Linked DNA regions of Homo sapiens: region 1 is linked to region 2. A link means that fine-mapping ties the variant in region 2 to the expression of a gene that starts in the linked region. Tissue or cell type: whole blood. Region 2 holds a variant in brackets; the other region holds the start of a gene. All regions are shown on one strand. Distances are from middle to middle.

Region 1 (8,000 bases), 25 kb after region 2:
CCCAGCTACTCAGGAGGCTGAGGCAGAAGAATCGCTTGAACCTGGGAGGCAGAGGTTGCAGTGAGCCAAGATCGTGCCACTGTACTCCAGCCTGGGCTACAGAGCAAGACTCCGTCTCAAAAAAAAAAAAAAAAAAAATATGGATTATACATGCAAAAATGGACTGGAAGGAAGTTTGTAAGATTTTTAGCCATTTTTCTGAAAATAATGTTAATTATGAGTAATTAAAATTGTCTTCGTCTTTTAAATATTTTTTAATGAACATCTAAATTATCTTTGGTTACCATCTGGCATAGTATGAAGTAAAAAAGAAAACACCTGTATTTTTCGTTAAAAAAAAAAAAAAGCAAAAATATCATCATTTTAAAAACCATGCCTCAAAGTTCATGCCAAAAAGACATAGTTCACACCAAAAAACCAAAACCAAAAACAAAAAACAGTGGCCTTCTGACTAGAAAGAAAACTGGAGGCTAGGCGCGGGGCCTCCATGCCTGTAATCCTAGCACTTAGGGAGGCTGAGGCGGGCAGATCACTGGAGGTCCGAGTTCAAGACCAGCCTGGCCAACATGCCAAAACCCCATCTCTAGTAAAAATATGACAATGTCGTGGAAATAGCCATTGATTCTGGCATAAAAAAATAAAGAGGAAAAAGTAATTATAAAAATGATTTTTATGGCCAGGCCCGGTGGCTCACAGCACTTTGGGAGGTCAAGGGGGATGGATCATAAGGTCAGGAGTTCAAGACCAGCCTGGCCAACGTGGTAAAACCCCGTCTCTATTAAAAATACTGCTCAGGAGGCTGAGGCAGAGAATTGCTTGAACCTGGGAGGTGGAGGTTGCAGTGAGCCGAGATTGCGCCACTGTACTCCAGCCTGGGCGACAGAGCGAAACTCCATCTCAAAAAAAAAAAAAAAGAAAAAGATTTTTAATATTCTTTCACTGAAGGAAATCCATTTCCAATACAACAAAATAATTGTGTATATATATTTTTAAGTATATGATGTCTTTTTCTCAAAAGACACGCCACCACTTTCATCAGAATCTCAGACAGATTCATGTCTTCCAAAAGATTACAAGACCAATGTCCTAATGTTTTAGTTTGTGGTAAGAAAAATATAGTCTATCACCTTATTCCAGGGGTGTAGTTTTTGGCCAATGCATATTTATGCAACAGGATGAAAGTTCAAATAGCACACTTATGCAACAGGATGAAAGTTCAAATAGCACACTTATGCAACAGGATGAAAGTTCAAATACATAAAAATCTATTAAAAATCCTTCAAAGTGGACTAGGGTCCTACGAATCTGCTGAGAAGCCTAGTATCTGACCTATGCATGAATTGATAACTGATTCTGATTTTCTTACAGATATTCCTGAAAGAGGATAGAGCTTGGTGTTGAGAATAAACTGGGCAGTAATGGTGATGAGGTTACATCATGGCCTTACTAGGAAATGTTTTTGCTTTTTTTTTTTTTTTTAACTAAAAACATAGATTTTTTTTTTTTAGTTCATACTGTGCCAGATGTTGGAAACACAGTCGTAACCAAAGATAATTTAGATGTTCATTAAAAAATATTTAAAAGACGAAGACAATTTTAATTACTCATAATTAACATTATTTTCAGAAAAATGGCTAAAAATCTTATAAACTTCCTTCCAGTCCATTTTTGCATATGTAATACTTTTTTTTTTTTTTGATACTGAGTCTTGCTCTGTCGCCCAGGCTGGAGTGCAGCGGCACGATCTTGGCTCACTGAAACCTCTGCCTCCCGGGTTCACGCCATTCTCCTGCCTCAGCCTCCTGAGTAGCTGGGATTACAGGCACACGCCACCATGCCTGGCTAATTTTTGTATTCTTAGTAGAGACGAGGTTTCACCATGTTTTCCCAGGCTAGTCTCGAACTCTTGACCTTGTGCTCTGCCCGCCTCGGCCTCCCAAAGTGCTGGGATTACAGGCATGAGCCACCGTGCCCGGCCCTGCATGTATATATTTTATTAAAAGTAAAATTGGGCCGGGCACGGTGGCTTACGCCTGTAATCCCAGTACTTTGGGAGGCCGAGGCGGGCGGATCACCTGAGGTCGGGAGTTGGAGACCAGCCTGACCAACATATAGAAACCCCATCTCTACTAAAAATACAAAATTAGCCTAGCAAGGTAGTGCGTGCCTGTAATCCCAACTACTCGGGAGGCTGAGGCAGGAGAATCGCTTGAACCCAGGAGGCGGAGGTTGCAGTGAGCCAAGATGGCGCCACTGCACTCCAGCCTGGGCAACAAGAGCGAAACTCCATCTCAAAAAAAAAAAAAAAGTAAAATTGGAATGCTATTAGGTTTAGAATTCTACTTTTCCCAATAATATGGTATGCATTTCTCCAAGTAAGTCTTCAATAGCAAGATATTTATTTATTTATTGAGATGGAATCTCGCTCTGTTGCCCAGGCTGGAGTGCAGTGGCTTGACGTCAGCTCATTGCAACCTCTGCCTCCCAGGTTCAAGCGATTCTTGCGCCTCAACCTCCCAAGTAGCTGGGACTACAGGTGTACGCCACCATGCCTGGTTTGTATTTTTAGTAGAAATGGAGTTTCACCATGTTGGCCAGGCTGGTCTCAAACTCCTGACCTCAGGTTATCTGCCCGCCTCGGCCTCTCAAAGTGCTGGAATTACAGGCGTGAGCCACTGCGCCAGGACCAATAGCAAGATATTTAAACGGAAGCATTATATTTCATTGTTATTGATTTAACTATTTTCCTTATATTGGATTTTTAGGTAATTTCCATTTTTTCACTACTCAAGACTACATCCTTGCATGAAAATCTTTGCTTGACTCCGTTTCCTTAAATTCCTGAAAAAGGAATTACTGTCATAGAGCATAAACATTGTGAAGGTTTTTGGATCTTTTTTTCCAAATTGCCTTCCAGAAAGTTTGTAATAATTTACATTCCTGCCTTCTCATTCCTGCATCAACACTTTAATTTTTCCCAACATTTCAAAATTTTGTTAGAAAAGTTAAATCTTACTGTTTCATATTTTATTACCAATAAAGTTGATTATTTTTTCATATGTTTCTTGCCTGTCTGTAGTTCTTCTTTTGGAACGCTTAGTCCATACCATTAGTCTAATTTTTCTATCAGTGTGTTGGATTTTTTCTTTATTTGTAAGAGCTCTTTATGTATAAGGCTGTTGGCCGAATCTAGTGGCTCAGCCTGTAATCCCAAAACTTTAGGACTCAGAGGCAAGGCAGGAGGATCCCTTGAACCCAGGTGTTCGAGACCAGCGTAGGCAACAGAGTGAGACCCTATCTCAAAACCAACAAACAATTTATCTTATGTTGCAAATATTTTTCTTCATATGCCTTTAAACTTTATATATTTTTTTAATTCAATGAGGATTTACACTTTCATACAGGTAGATTGATTTATGTTCTCCTTTGTGGTTTATTCCCTCACTTATGTGTTTACAAAGGCCTTCCTTCACCCAAGTTAAGGTAAATATTCAGCATATTTCCTTGCTGTGGTTAAGAGATGTGAGAAGATACTATGAGAGACTCACTATGTTCACAACTTTTTCCAGTTAAATGAAGTCTTCCCACGTTTCCTAATCACTCACATTAAGCATATAGAATGGATTAATTTTAAATCTGAATATAAAACTAATTGCACAGCATGTTTCACTGCTCTTCTTACTGCCTACCTGGGGCACAGTCTCTTTGGCCTGAGTGGTCTCTTCAGTTTTTAACGAGTGGCTCCACAATTCCTTAGGAAGAGCTGCTCTCTTCTGTCTCCCTGGTGGTCGTAATTTCGCCCACACCTGCCCCGTCTTTGCTCTGCAGCTCCACACTCCCTCAGCCCCGCCGAGAGCTCCTGGCTCCCGTCTCCAGGTTACCCCAGGTCACCACAGCCACCTCTCTGCACCAGCGGCCCGCTCACGTACCCAGCTCCAGGAGCTCCTTCACGATGGCTTTTCCGATGCCCGTGGCCCCGCCGGTGACGATGGCCACTTGGCCCTGCAGCAAACCAGGCGCCAGGTAGCTCCTGCCCTTAGCCCAGGAGGCCATCCCTGCAGCGGGGTGCCAGAGCAGCTGAGCGCAGGCCCTTCTGGGTCTCAGGGACATTCGAGGCGGGCGGGCGGACAGGGCGGTGCTCGAGCCCACGTGACCACCAGAACCCCGCACCCTCCCCGGCCCGGCCCCGCCCCGCCCGCCGGCCGCGGCAAAGCCGCATCCTCCCGGAGCAGAACCGCTCCCCGCCGGCTGTCCGCAACCTCCGCCAGCGTCGGTCCCTGGGCAGGTGTGGGTGAGACTGCTCGTTCGTTTCTTTAAATTTCGATGCCATTGGGGAGGGTGGAAGGGAAATGCAAAAAAAAAAAAAGAAGAAGAAAGAAACAAGCAGGGTGTGCTCTATTTCAAAAATTCAATCCTCAGGGCTGAAGCTCTCACGATTAATTAAAATTAAATCTCCAGTGCAGCTGGAAAAAGAAAGGCTGCTGCTCGGCGCCCTCGCTGCGCCCGCCTGCCGGGGTCGGACGTCGGCGATGCTGTGGCTCCAGGTGCTGTGTGCCGCTGGCTGGGAAGGGGAGAAAGGGCAGGCTTAGCTGAGGGGGAGAAATGCGGCTTTCAGATCCTTTCATCCTTCGGGAGGGAGCCCGGGAAAGAGAGTGAAGGGGAAGAGGAGATGCGGTTGCAGTTTTCCACAGAACCAAGAGAATAAACGATTTGAAAAAATAAACTCAGGCCCACCTCCGTCTCACCTCCCACTCCCCACCCAAGAATCAAGGGGAAAGATCATCTTTACCAGGTTTGAGACCTGATCCATTTCAGCTGAGCTGCATAGCGAGTCCAGAAGAGGATCTTTCCTTGAAGGGTGCACGCTTCCTGCAAGATGCATCTGTAGGTGTTTGAGATCATGTCCTGTAGTTCATTCCTTGTGCAGGAGGGTGAGCCCGCTGAGGATGGGGAAAATTTCTCGTCTGTGTTATGGTGCCCAGTAACAGTGATTTATTATTCAGATCTGCTCCTTATTTTTCATCTTGCTTCCCGCTCTGAACCCACCAGAGTGAGATTACACCTGGACTGGCCTACTGAGACTTCACCCTAAGAACTTGGTCGAATGTGCCAGTTGCTGTGGTCTTAACAATCCAGATGGGATGCTATTTCTAAGGCTGTTGTCAGAGTGTTGCATTTTCCCCGGACAGGTATTAAAATAATATAAAGGCAAATAAATGCCATCATCCTTTTGTTGGACCTACCACCTAGGATTCACAAAGCCAATTGGAAATGGGTCTGGTTGACAGAGGAATCAGACCATCACTTCCTCCACCAGGTCCCACCCACCAGCGAGGCTGCAGTTCTTGTTGGACAGCTACACTTCCCTGTTGCTCCATCCTCTTGTCCTTCTCTGATCTCTTTTTAGAATCACTTCTCCCTCTATCTTTGTTGCTGACAGATTCAAATCTACACTCGTTAAAGAAAGGAATAAATCTCCTGGTTACCATTTGCTAGATAGTTTATCCAGGAATCACTTAACTCTACTACTTAAGTCAATTCTGTAGTTAGGACCAAATTTTTAAAATTACAACGCCATCACCTCCTTTAAAACAAAGTAAATTCAAACAGGAAAGCTCAAAGTGTTGTTGCAGAAACATATAACTCCTCTTGGTTTGATCCCAATGACAAGGTGTTTTTTTTTAAGGAAAAGAAATATTGATTCAGTTCTGAGGGGTATCTTATTCAAGAGAAGTCCAGACTTTCTTTCTTGTGGGTGGGGACACTTTAAATTCTTTTAAATGATAACTTTATTGAAGATATAACTTAACATGATTTATGCCCTGGTCTGGACCTATAGATTCTTAGAGGTGTGCCAGGGTGGGTCAGTGGGAAGCTGGCTGTGCTGCAGCTTCCGTGTGGCTGCTGAGCGGACTGAGAGTGGGATTCTGATGTCTTCCAGTGAAACAGGGACTGGGGCCTGCAAACCGGTTATGCCTACTGAGGATGACAAGGTGCCATTCCTCAGCTGCAAGGAAGTTGCAGGATGAACAGTCAGAAGGCGATTTTTCATGATCCAGGCAGAACCTGCAATTAAGAGAGCTTTGGGGTCTCTTCAAGCGATCTTTTGTTTAAAATTAGGAGGCATGATCTCTTTGCCTCTGCCTCTGACCTCTGTCAGGGTTTGAAAGTCCACTAATCCGCTAAGTTCCAGGCCAAAAGGCCTGGAAGCAGAGCAATAGATCTGCTGCTTGGAAGCTCTTTGTTTTGAAATTTTAGTTCTGCCTCTGGTTGAGGCATCTCTTCCGAAGGCAACCACGCCATGCTGCACTGACCACTCCTTTGGTTGAATCAAATGCTGCTCTTCCCTGTGCTCTGCGTCACTGCCCTCTTTGTCCTGGGGAAAAAGGCATTCCTGTGGCCAAGGTCCTCCCACACCCCCGAACCTCTCCCCACAGCTCTGTCATACCCCATTAGCAATGACTGCCTTCAGCTTCCCACCCCTCCCCCACCCCATCTGCCTGGTAACTTTATTTTCTCCCCTCTGCAAAGCAGCTGCTAGCTCAGACTGACAGGGGCTTGTGGGATTCTCGACATTTAGACTCCCAGAATCTCAGTGCTGAGAGAATGTCAGTGAAGCATCTGGTCCTGCCCCTACCTTGAAGCAAAACTACCTAGCAATTGTGCCATAACAAGGCATATAAAGGAGCTTATTGATGTCTTTTTATTAAACTTCTCCTTAGTCTCAGGCTTTCACAAAAAATAAGCTACTCCTGAGTTGCTACCACTTCACCCAGTCACTTAAAAAGATTTATCGAGCATCTATTTGTTGGCCTACTTCTATGGTACCACTTCATAGGGCTTGAAGTCTAGTAGAAGAGCTATGCAATAAATAAGTAAAAGAAAAATAAATAATGACAAATGTTGGTAAGCCTTACACAGGAAACAAGCTGTTGTGATAAAGAATAATGAGAGGCAGAGCAGGGAGTCAAGTTTTTAGTTCGGGTGTCAAGAAGGGCTCAGAGGAGGAAACATTTGAACAAGGACTCAAAAAAACAAAAACGGGCACAGGAAGAGGCGGGGTGGAGCAGCAGAGCAGCAAGATAGACAGCAGTTAAGAAGACCTCAAGCATTTGGAAGCATTTGGTGCTCTTGAGGAAGAAATACACAGCCAGTGTGATTGGAGCATAGTACCCCTACTATGGTGGTACAGATGGGGTGGCAGGATGGGGAGGTCCTTAGGCCACATGGACTTCCACATGTATAACAGTAGGAAGTTACAGGAGGATTTTAAGCAGAAAACAGCCTGATTTTCTTTTTTATTTTTATTTATTTATTTGACATGGAGTCTGGCTCTGTATCCCAGGCTGGAGTGCAGTGGCAGCGATCTCGGCTCACTGCAGCCTCTGCCTCCCAGGTTCAAACAATTCTCCTGCCTCAGCCTTCCGAGAAGCTGAGACGACAGGTGCGCGCTGCCACGCCTGACCATCTGATTTTCTTTATGTTTTAAAAAGATGTTTCTGGCTGGGTGGCTCATGCCTGGAATCCCAGCACTTTGGGAGGTGAAACCCCATCTCTACTAAAAATACAAAAATTAGCCGGGTGTGGTGGCACACGCCTGTAATCTCATCTACTCGGTAGGAGAATCAGGTGGGGGAGGTGGGGGTTGCAGGAAGCTGAGATTGTGCCACTGCAGTCCAGCCTGGGTGACAGAGTGAGACTCTGTCTCAAAAAATTAAAAAAATTAAGTAAAAGATGTTGCTTACTGCTGAGTGAGGAATTGATTGGAAGGCAGCAAGAGTGGAAGCTGGAAGATAGGAGCATTTTTTTTAGAACCACAGTTAAGAGACAGTGGCCTCCTAGACCAGAGGGGAAGCAGTGGAGATGGGAAAGTTGGGTGGATGAATTTAAGAATTATCTGGGCCGGGAGCAGTGGCTCACGCCTGTAATCCCAGCACTTTGGGAGGCCAAGGCGGGCGGATCACCTGAGGTTGGGAGTTCGAGACCAGCCTGACCAACAT
Region 2 (8,264 bases):
GTGATTCTCCTGCCTCAGCCTCCCGAATAGCTGGGTTTATAGGAGTGCGCCATCACGCCTGGCTAATTTTTGTATTTTTAGTAGAGATGGGGTTTCAGCATGTTGGCCAGGCTGGTCTCAAACTCCTGACCTCAGATGATCTGCCCGCCTCAGCCTCCCAAAGTGCTGGGATTACAGGCATGATCCAGCACACCCAGCCTCAACTGAACATTTTACAAATTGAGTATGCCTTATTCAAAATGCTTGGAACCAGAAGTGCTTTGGATTTCAAATCTGTTCTGATTTTGTTTTGTTTTGTTTTGTTTTGAGATGGGAGTCTCACTCTGTCACCCAGGCTGGAGTGCAGTGGCATGATCTCGGCTCACTGCAAGCTCCACCTCCTGGGTTCACGCCATTCTCCTGCCTCAGCCTCCCGAGTAGCTGGGACTACAGGCACCCGCCACCGTGCCCAGCTAGTTTTTTGTATTTTTAGTAGAGACGGGGGTTTCACCGTGTTAGCCAGGATGGTCTCGATCTCCTGACCTCGTGATCTGCCTGCCTCGGCCTCCCAAAGTGCTGGGATTACAGACGTGAGCCACCGGGCCTGGCCAAATCTGTTCAGATTTTGGAATATTTGCATATACTACCTGGTTTAGCATCCCTAATCTGAAAATCCAAAATCTGAAATGCTCCAAAAAGCATTTCCTTTGAGCATCCTATTGGTGCTCAAAAATTTTCAGATTTTGGAGCATTCTGGATTTTGAGTTTTCAGATCAGGATGCTCAACCTATATTTGTGTAATTTTTCTTTTTCAGTGCCTGTTATCTAAGGTTGTAGAAAAAGACCTTCTCTATTGCCTCTTAAAAATGCAATCTCTAGCTTCCCTAAAAAATGGAAGGAATCAGAATGTTGAAAAGATACTAAAGAAATCAGCAAAAATATATATTTTTTTAATCCACACTTTTCAACTGGTAAACTTGTGTTTTTCAAGTTACTTCCTGGTGTATTGTTTTTCTCCCAGTTCTATTTGGATGACCTTTAGACTCTTATGAAAGAAATGACTGAGATAGGCTGGGTGCAGTGGCTCATGCCTGTAATCCCAGCACTTTGGGAGGTTGAGGCAGGTGGATCACATGAGGTCAGGAGTTCGAGACCAGCCTGGCCAACATGGTGAAACCCCGTTTCTACTAAAAATACAAAAATTTTAGCTGGGCATGGTGGCAGGTGCCTGTAATCCCAGCTACTCAGGAGGCTGAGACAGGAGAATCACTGGAACCCAGGAGGTGGAGGTTGCAGTGAGCCGAGATCGCACCATTGCACTCCAACTTGGGCAACAAGAGTGAAACTCCATCTCAAAAAAAAAAGAAAAAAAAAAAAGAAAAGTAGGAAATAACTGAGATAGTAGGTTAAATAAGGTCACTAAGTTCTTTTTTCTTTCTTTTTTTTTTTTTTTTTTTGGAGGGGGTACAGAGTCTCACTCCAACCTCTACCTCCCAGATTCAAGTGATTCTCATACCTCAGCCCCCCGAGTAGCTAAGATTACAGGTGTGTGACACCACACCTAGCTAAATTTTGTATTTTTAGTAGAGATGGGGTTTCACCATGTTGCCCATGCTGGTCTCGAACTCCTGACCTCAGGTGATCTACCCACCTCAGCCTCCCAAAGTGCTGGGATTACAGGCGTGAGCCACTGCATCCAGCCCCACTGACTTCTTTTCTGAAAAAATAAATATCTATTGCCCATGGAAAAATTAATCAAAATCAGAATATGAGTCAAATATGTCAAATTCCATTACGGTGAACTTCACAAGTTATTCCAAATTCTACAGTCATAGATGTTGTAAATTGGTCATTAGTTAAAAAATGAATTTGGGGTTATTCAAAGATACTTAATGTAGGCCAGGCGTGGTGGCTCACGCCTGTAATCCCAGCACTCTGGGAGGCCGAGGCAGGCGGATCACAAGGTCAGGAGTTCAAGACCAGCCTGGCCAGCACAGTGAAACCCCGTCACTACTAAAAATACAAAAAGTTAGCCGGGCATAGTGGCGTGCACCTGTAATCCCAGCTACATGGGAGGCTGAGTCAGGAGAATTGCTTGAACCCGGGAGGCGGAGGCTGCAGTGAGCAGAAATTGCACCACTGCACTCCAGCCTGGGTGATAGAGCGAGACTGTGTCTTACAAAAAAAAAAAAAAAAGACACTTAATGTAAAAACAACTTGTAGGCCAGGCACAGTGGCTCACGCCTGTAATCTCAGCACATTGAGAGGCCAAGGTGGGCACATCACCTGAGGTCGGGGGTTCGAGACCACCCTGAGCAACACAGAGAAACCCCGTCTCTATTAAAAATACTAAATTAGCCGGGCATGGTGACGCATGCCTGTAATCCCAGCTACTCAGGAAGCTGAGGCAGGAGAATCGCCTGAACCCAGGAGGCGGAGGTTGTGGTGAGCTGCGATAGTGCCATTGCACTCCAGCCTGGGCAACAAGAACAAAATTCCATCTCAAAAAAAAAAAACAAAAAAACAAAAAAACAAACAAACAAAAAAAAACACTTGTAATAGGACTAAACCTAGTACATAAATATTCCCAAAAAAGGACAACTAGATAATGCTCCCCCAAACTATGACTCCCAAATCCTCATCATTCTTGAGCTTTTCTTTGTAATACATACTTGAATATAAATGTTTTCCTTCTCAACCATTAAGAGTAAAAAGATCCTCCAAAGAAATGCCTTAGTTGTGATAACCCTGCAGATTTAAGCGCCCTCCTGGATGCACAGCCCCAGAGCCCCAGGGCCACAGGCTCTAGTGTAGGAACCCCTGATGCACTTCAAACTCCTCTCCCTGGTAGTTAAGGCCTTTTGTGACTCCCACTCCATTCCAAGGTATTAATTTCCATTTAGCCGTACCACCCATCATCACAAAGAATTATTTGTAGTTCCCAAAAGTGCCACAGTGTCTCAAATTTCTGTGTCTTTACACAGTAAATGTCTCATTGACTTGCCTTCCTTTCTCCTCCTCATATGTCACCAAACTCGAGTTCACCTTTGAGACATGTCGCCTGGATGCTGCCCTCCTCTGTGCTCCTTTTATCTTGCACACTTGCAAATACCTTTACTGGAATATCCAACACCTTCTCTCTCTAGCTGATTATTTTCATGCTTTGCTCCCCTACTAGTTGTAGACTCCCTCAGAGTGTGGATGGTATCTGATTCATTTTAGTATTTCCAGATGTATCTTGCACATGTACCTGTACTGGTCAAGTAAACAAGCGACAGCCAACAGTTTCAATTTGTCTCTTAAGAGAGCTAAAATTTAAAAAAAAGGAGTGCTCAATCTCTGACATTCATCCTCCTCTTCTATTGTAGAGGATACCTAAAGCCATGTCTTTCAAATTGTAAATTACAACACAATGCTAATAGTGAAATAAAATTAGCAAGTAATAAGCAGCAAGTGTAAAAAAAGAAAATACAACAGAGTAGACCACAATAAAATTGAAAATATCAGCCGGGTGTGGTGGCTCATGCCTGTAATCCCAGCACTTTGGGAGGCTGAGGCAGGTGGATCACCTGAGGTCAGGAGTTCGAGACCAGCCTGACCAACATGGTGAAACCCCGTCTCTACTAAAAATACAAAAAACTACTGGACGTGGTGGTGGGTGCCTACAACCCCAGCTACTCAGGAGGCTGAGGCATAAGAATCACTTGAACCCAGGAGGCAGAGGTTGCAGTGAGCCAAGATCGCCCCATTGCACTTCAGCCTGGGCAACAGGAGCAAAACTCCATCTCAGAAAAAAAAAAAAAAAAAAAGGAAAGAAAGAAAAATCAGAGTGCACAATACATAGTAAGAATGTTTGCTTCACGAATTTTGTTTTGCCTATAGACACATATACACATATGTGTTTACTAGGTCAAGATGTAAAATTTCTTACTATGAGTCATGGTCCAAAGTGTGAAGGCCACTGGAAAAGGAAACGATTCTTAAGAGAACAAAAGCAAGAAGTATCTGAAACACTTCTTTTCCATGTTAAAGACAAGCTGTGTTTTTTTTCTAGCCAACCGAATATCAGAAAAGCCAGTGATTTCATTTCAAAAATGTATTTTAAGAAAAGAAACTCTCATTACTTCTTACATATGCATGAAAGAGGACACATTTCACTCATAAAGGAACTACAACTTTTCTAAAGGGCAGTTTGGCAATATCTCTTAAAATTACAAAGGCATTTGGCTTTGGACTTAGCAATTATACCTCTTGCAATTTAGGCTACACACTATCTGATGTACAGAAAATGTTACTTACTGCAGGTGTTTAGTTTGGTTTTGGTAATAACAAAAGGTTGGAAACAACCCAAATGCTCACCAACTGGAAAATGGTTACACAAATCATTCCTTACTTATGGTTTATAAAAGTGGCATATTAGCCATAAAAAAATAAGAAGAAATCTCTTTAGACTCTGTTAAGAAAATATCTCCAGGATATTTGCTTCATTTGAGAACATCAAGATACAGAATAGTGTTTATAGCATCCTAAATTTGTGGTTAAAATGTAGGAAAAAGATATGCCCCCAAAACTATTAACACTAGTTGCCTGTGAGGATGGGAAATGCCAGAAAGAACCTACAATCTGAATTATTTCTTCCAAGATGCTAAAATAGGTAAATACATTTAGTAAAGAATAATGAGCAGGAAAAGAAGGTAGAGTGGTATCAATGGCCTGCACACCATTTTTTACTCTGTTTTTAGTAACATCACATTGATTTCCACTTGAGGAAGTACCTCTTGCCTGTTCTCAGTCCATGTCTGAGCGATGATGACCACAGTTCCTCATTCCTCAGGCTGACCATGCATAGCAGAGCAACCTCATTTCTACAGTTTTTGGTTAATGACTGAACACATAACCAGGCAGGGTCAGTTAATGAGTATCCTCTCTGGGACCTGCTGGCACCATTAATATTGTTTTTGCTGGCATGACTTGAGAGGCACTCTCTCACTGGAGAGTTAAGAACAGCTAGAGTGTTGACCTGTAACTCTTGCTAGTACTCGCCTTTTGCCACACCTAGAGACAGCCTGCCTGAGAATGTACGCAGACATGAAGAAAGCAAAACCAAAAGGAGAGGCAGCTTCCTGCTAACATTGTGGCTGAACCTAACA[T/C]GCCCTTTCCGCAGTGGCTCTGCAGGTACCAGGATCCCCTCCAGGGCTTGCACGACGGCTGCGCTCTGCCCCCAGAGTTTCTCTTGCAGCAGATCTGGTGTGGGGCTGGATAATTTGCTGTGCTAACAACTTCTCCCAAGTGATGGGGATGTGGCTGGTCTGGAAGCCACTTTTGGAGAACCACTGCCCTAGATTTTTACTTAAGCCAAGTTGAATTTTATTTTTATCCTATACATGTTTGGGAGTTCTGCATAATCCAGGAAATGAGCAGGGTACTAAAATTTGCATAAAGGAGGCATGCTGTCTGTGTACAGAGTGGCTAATCAGAGGCACAAAACCTTAGAAACTTTTGGAGAAAAAATCCTGGATTATCTGTTAGGAGGAACAACTTAGCAGTCCTGTGTAAAATCAAGTAGCTATATTAATGGTATTCAAATCTAAATTAACACAGATTAGTTTCATTTCTATACTTTAACAAATAAGCTATTCCTAGACAGTGATGGCCAGTTTAGTCACATCGGGATTAGAGTTGCCCAAGAAAACACAAGACATCCAGTTTAATCTGAACATCAGACAAAAAACAAATACTATTTTCCCTTTCCTTGGTAAATCTGGCAGTCCGCATCTGGATGAAAATGTTTTAGAAGTACTTTGAATTTTAAGTTCAAATAAAATAAAATGTTAACTGTTAGAATCACAGCTCATTAAAGGTATTAATGATCTTGATTTAAGAAATGTTCCCTAACATGCTTCCCCCAATCAGAAGACAAAACTCAAAGACTTAGAAAGAAAACTATATAAAAACGCTTACACAGCTAATGGAAATCCAGCTTTAGTAGGGACAATGATATTGACGATAGATCCTCCATGCTCTTTCATCCAGGAGCTGTAAACTGCAGGATAGAGGCAAACTCAATCATTAAATTTTTAAAGTATCCTGGCCCTCCTGATACCTTGTTTCAGCACACTGCCTGTTTGATATGTTTTACACGTCCATTTACATTTCCTTATAAAAAGCCTGACTGAGGTAAAATTTATACATCATAAAATTCATCTACTTTAAGTGTGCAATGTAATGACTTTTAATAAATATACGGAGTTATGCAACCATTACCACAATCCAGCTTGAGAACCTTTCCATCACCCCAAAAAGTTCCTTCACACCCATCTGCAGCTTAACCCATCCCCAGGTAAACACTCATCTTTCTGTTTCTCTAGATTTGCCTTTACCTTTTCGAAAATCTAATGTAAAGTGAATCACACAATACGTGGTCTTTTGTGTCTAACTTCTTCCACTTAGAATCATGTTTGTGAGGTTCATCCACGTTGTAATGTGTTAATAGTTCCTTTTTGATTGCCGAGTAGTATTCCATTATGTGGATATGCCATGTTTTATTTATCCACTTATCAGCTGATAAACATTTGGATAGTTCCACTTTGGAGCAATTATGAATACAAATCTTTGTGTGGTCATATGTTAACTCTGTTTAGCTTTTAAAGAAACTGCCAAATGGTTTTCCAAAGTGTCCCTCCCCATTTTACATTGTTCTCAGAAATGCATGGGGGATGTAGTTTCTACACGCCACTGCTGTCTGATTTTTTGATAATAGCCATCTAGTGGGTGTGAAGTGGTATCACACTGGAGTTTTTATTTGCATTTCCCTAATGACTATAATCATGTTGATCTATATATCTAGCCTATGTCAGTACCACACTGTCTTAAAATCAAGAAATAGCTTTGCAATCAAGAAGCATTAAGTCCTCCAACTTTCTTCTTTTGCAAAATTGTTTTGGCTATTCTGGGCCCTCTGCATCTCCATATGTAGTTTAGGATCAGTTTGTTAATTTCTACAAAAATTGACAGGGATTGCTCTGAATCTACAGATCAATTTGGGAAGAACTAACACATTAACAATATTGGACCTTCTAACCCATAAACACTGAATATTTTTACATTATTTAAATCTTCTTTGATTTCTCTCAGCAATGTCTGGCAGTTTGTGGCATACAAGTCTTACACTTTTTTGTTAACCTCATTGTTAAATATTTTATTATTTATATATGCTTGAAAACATATATGAAAAATATATGAAAACATATAAAACCATTTGATTTTAGCACAAGAAAGGAGAATAACCATTTAAATTATTCTACACACACCTTCCGCTTCTGGATAAATACCACCATATACATATATTTATTTATTTCCTAGTTCTGAAAATGTCTACAAGTAATGATAACCCAGTAGTAGTGAACACATGTAGTACCCAAATCTCGCCTTCTAAAAATCATTCCCGGCTAGGAGTGGTGGCTCACACCCGTAATCCCAGCACTTTGGCAGGTCAAGGTGAGAGGATCACTTAAGGCCAGGAGTTCAAGACCAGCCTGGGCAACAGAGAAAAACTCTGTCTCTATGAAAAATTAAAAAATTAGCCTGGCATGGTGTCATGTGCCTATAGTAGCAGCTGCTCGGTAGGCTGAAGCGGGGAGGATTGCTTGACCCCAGGAGTTCAAGGTTGCAGTGGGCTATGCAGCCTTGAACCACTACTCTCCAGCCTGGGTGACAGAGCAAGACTCTCTCTCCAAAAAGTAAATAAATAAATAAGCAAACAATAATTATTATTACCTACTAAAGGGAACTAGGTCTTCTTGGAGAAACAGGTCTGAGCCATTTCAAAAAGACACAGAAGCCAGATTAGCTGGTCAACTAGAACATCAGAGAGAAAATGACAATAATGGGTTAGAAATACTGAATAAAAATAAATTCCATTCATCAATAGTAAGGCTTAGGAGGTGAGAAAAAAAGGAAAAACTCATCTTTATAAAAGAATGCCAATTAATAAATAAATAAGGCATAAATTTTTAAAATCATCATTTTGCATCTTCCAATTCTGAAACTGAATCGGGCAAGAATCAAAAATGGAATGAGCCGGGAGCAGTGCCTCACACCTATATCCCAGCACTTTGAGAGGCAGAGGCGGATGGATGGCTTCAGCCCAGGAGTTTGAGACCAGCCTCGGCAACAAGGGGAGACCCCGGCTCTACCAAAAAAAAAAAAAAAAAAAAAAAAAAATTAGCTGAGCATGGTGGTTAGTAGCCTAGTATGCACCTGTACCTCCAGCTACTCAGGAGGTG

The links. PIP is the estimated chance that this variant, and not a neighbour inherited with it, causes the effect.
Region 1: PECR starts here. The variant in region 2 is fine-mapped to the expression of PECR in whole blood (TOPMed, PIP above 0.99).

What each region holds. Positions count from the first base shown.
Region 1 is chr2:216,077,689-216,085,688 of GRCh38, forward strand. It overlaps PECR (peroxisomal trans-2-enoyl-CoA reductase), which reads right to left and starts at 4,121. Exons shown (of 8, transcript NM_018441.6): 1 at 3,930-4,121. The coding sequence starts at 4,053. It overlaps TMEM169 (transmembrane protein 169), which reads left to right and starts at 4,231. Exons shown (of 3, transcript NM_001142311.2): 1 at 4,231-4,291. RefSeq lists enhancers at 3,723-3,802, 3,833-3,882, 7,007-7,076 and a silencer at 4,073-4,332.
Region 2 is chr2:216,052,955-216,061,218 of GRCh38, forward strand. PECR (peroxisomal trans-2-enoyl-CoA reductase) reads right to left here. Exons shown (of 8, transcript NM_018441.6): 4 at 5,941-6,022. Among named protein-coding and RNA genes, the nearest start is that of PECR, 25 kb to the right of the region's middle. RefSeq lists enhancers at 4,994-5,173, 5,234-5,293. The variant T/C (reference allele first, on the strand shown) is at 5,130.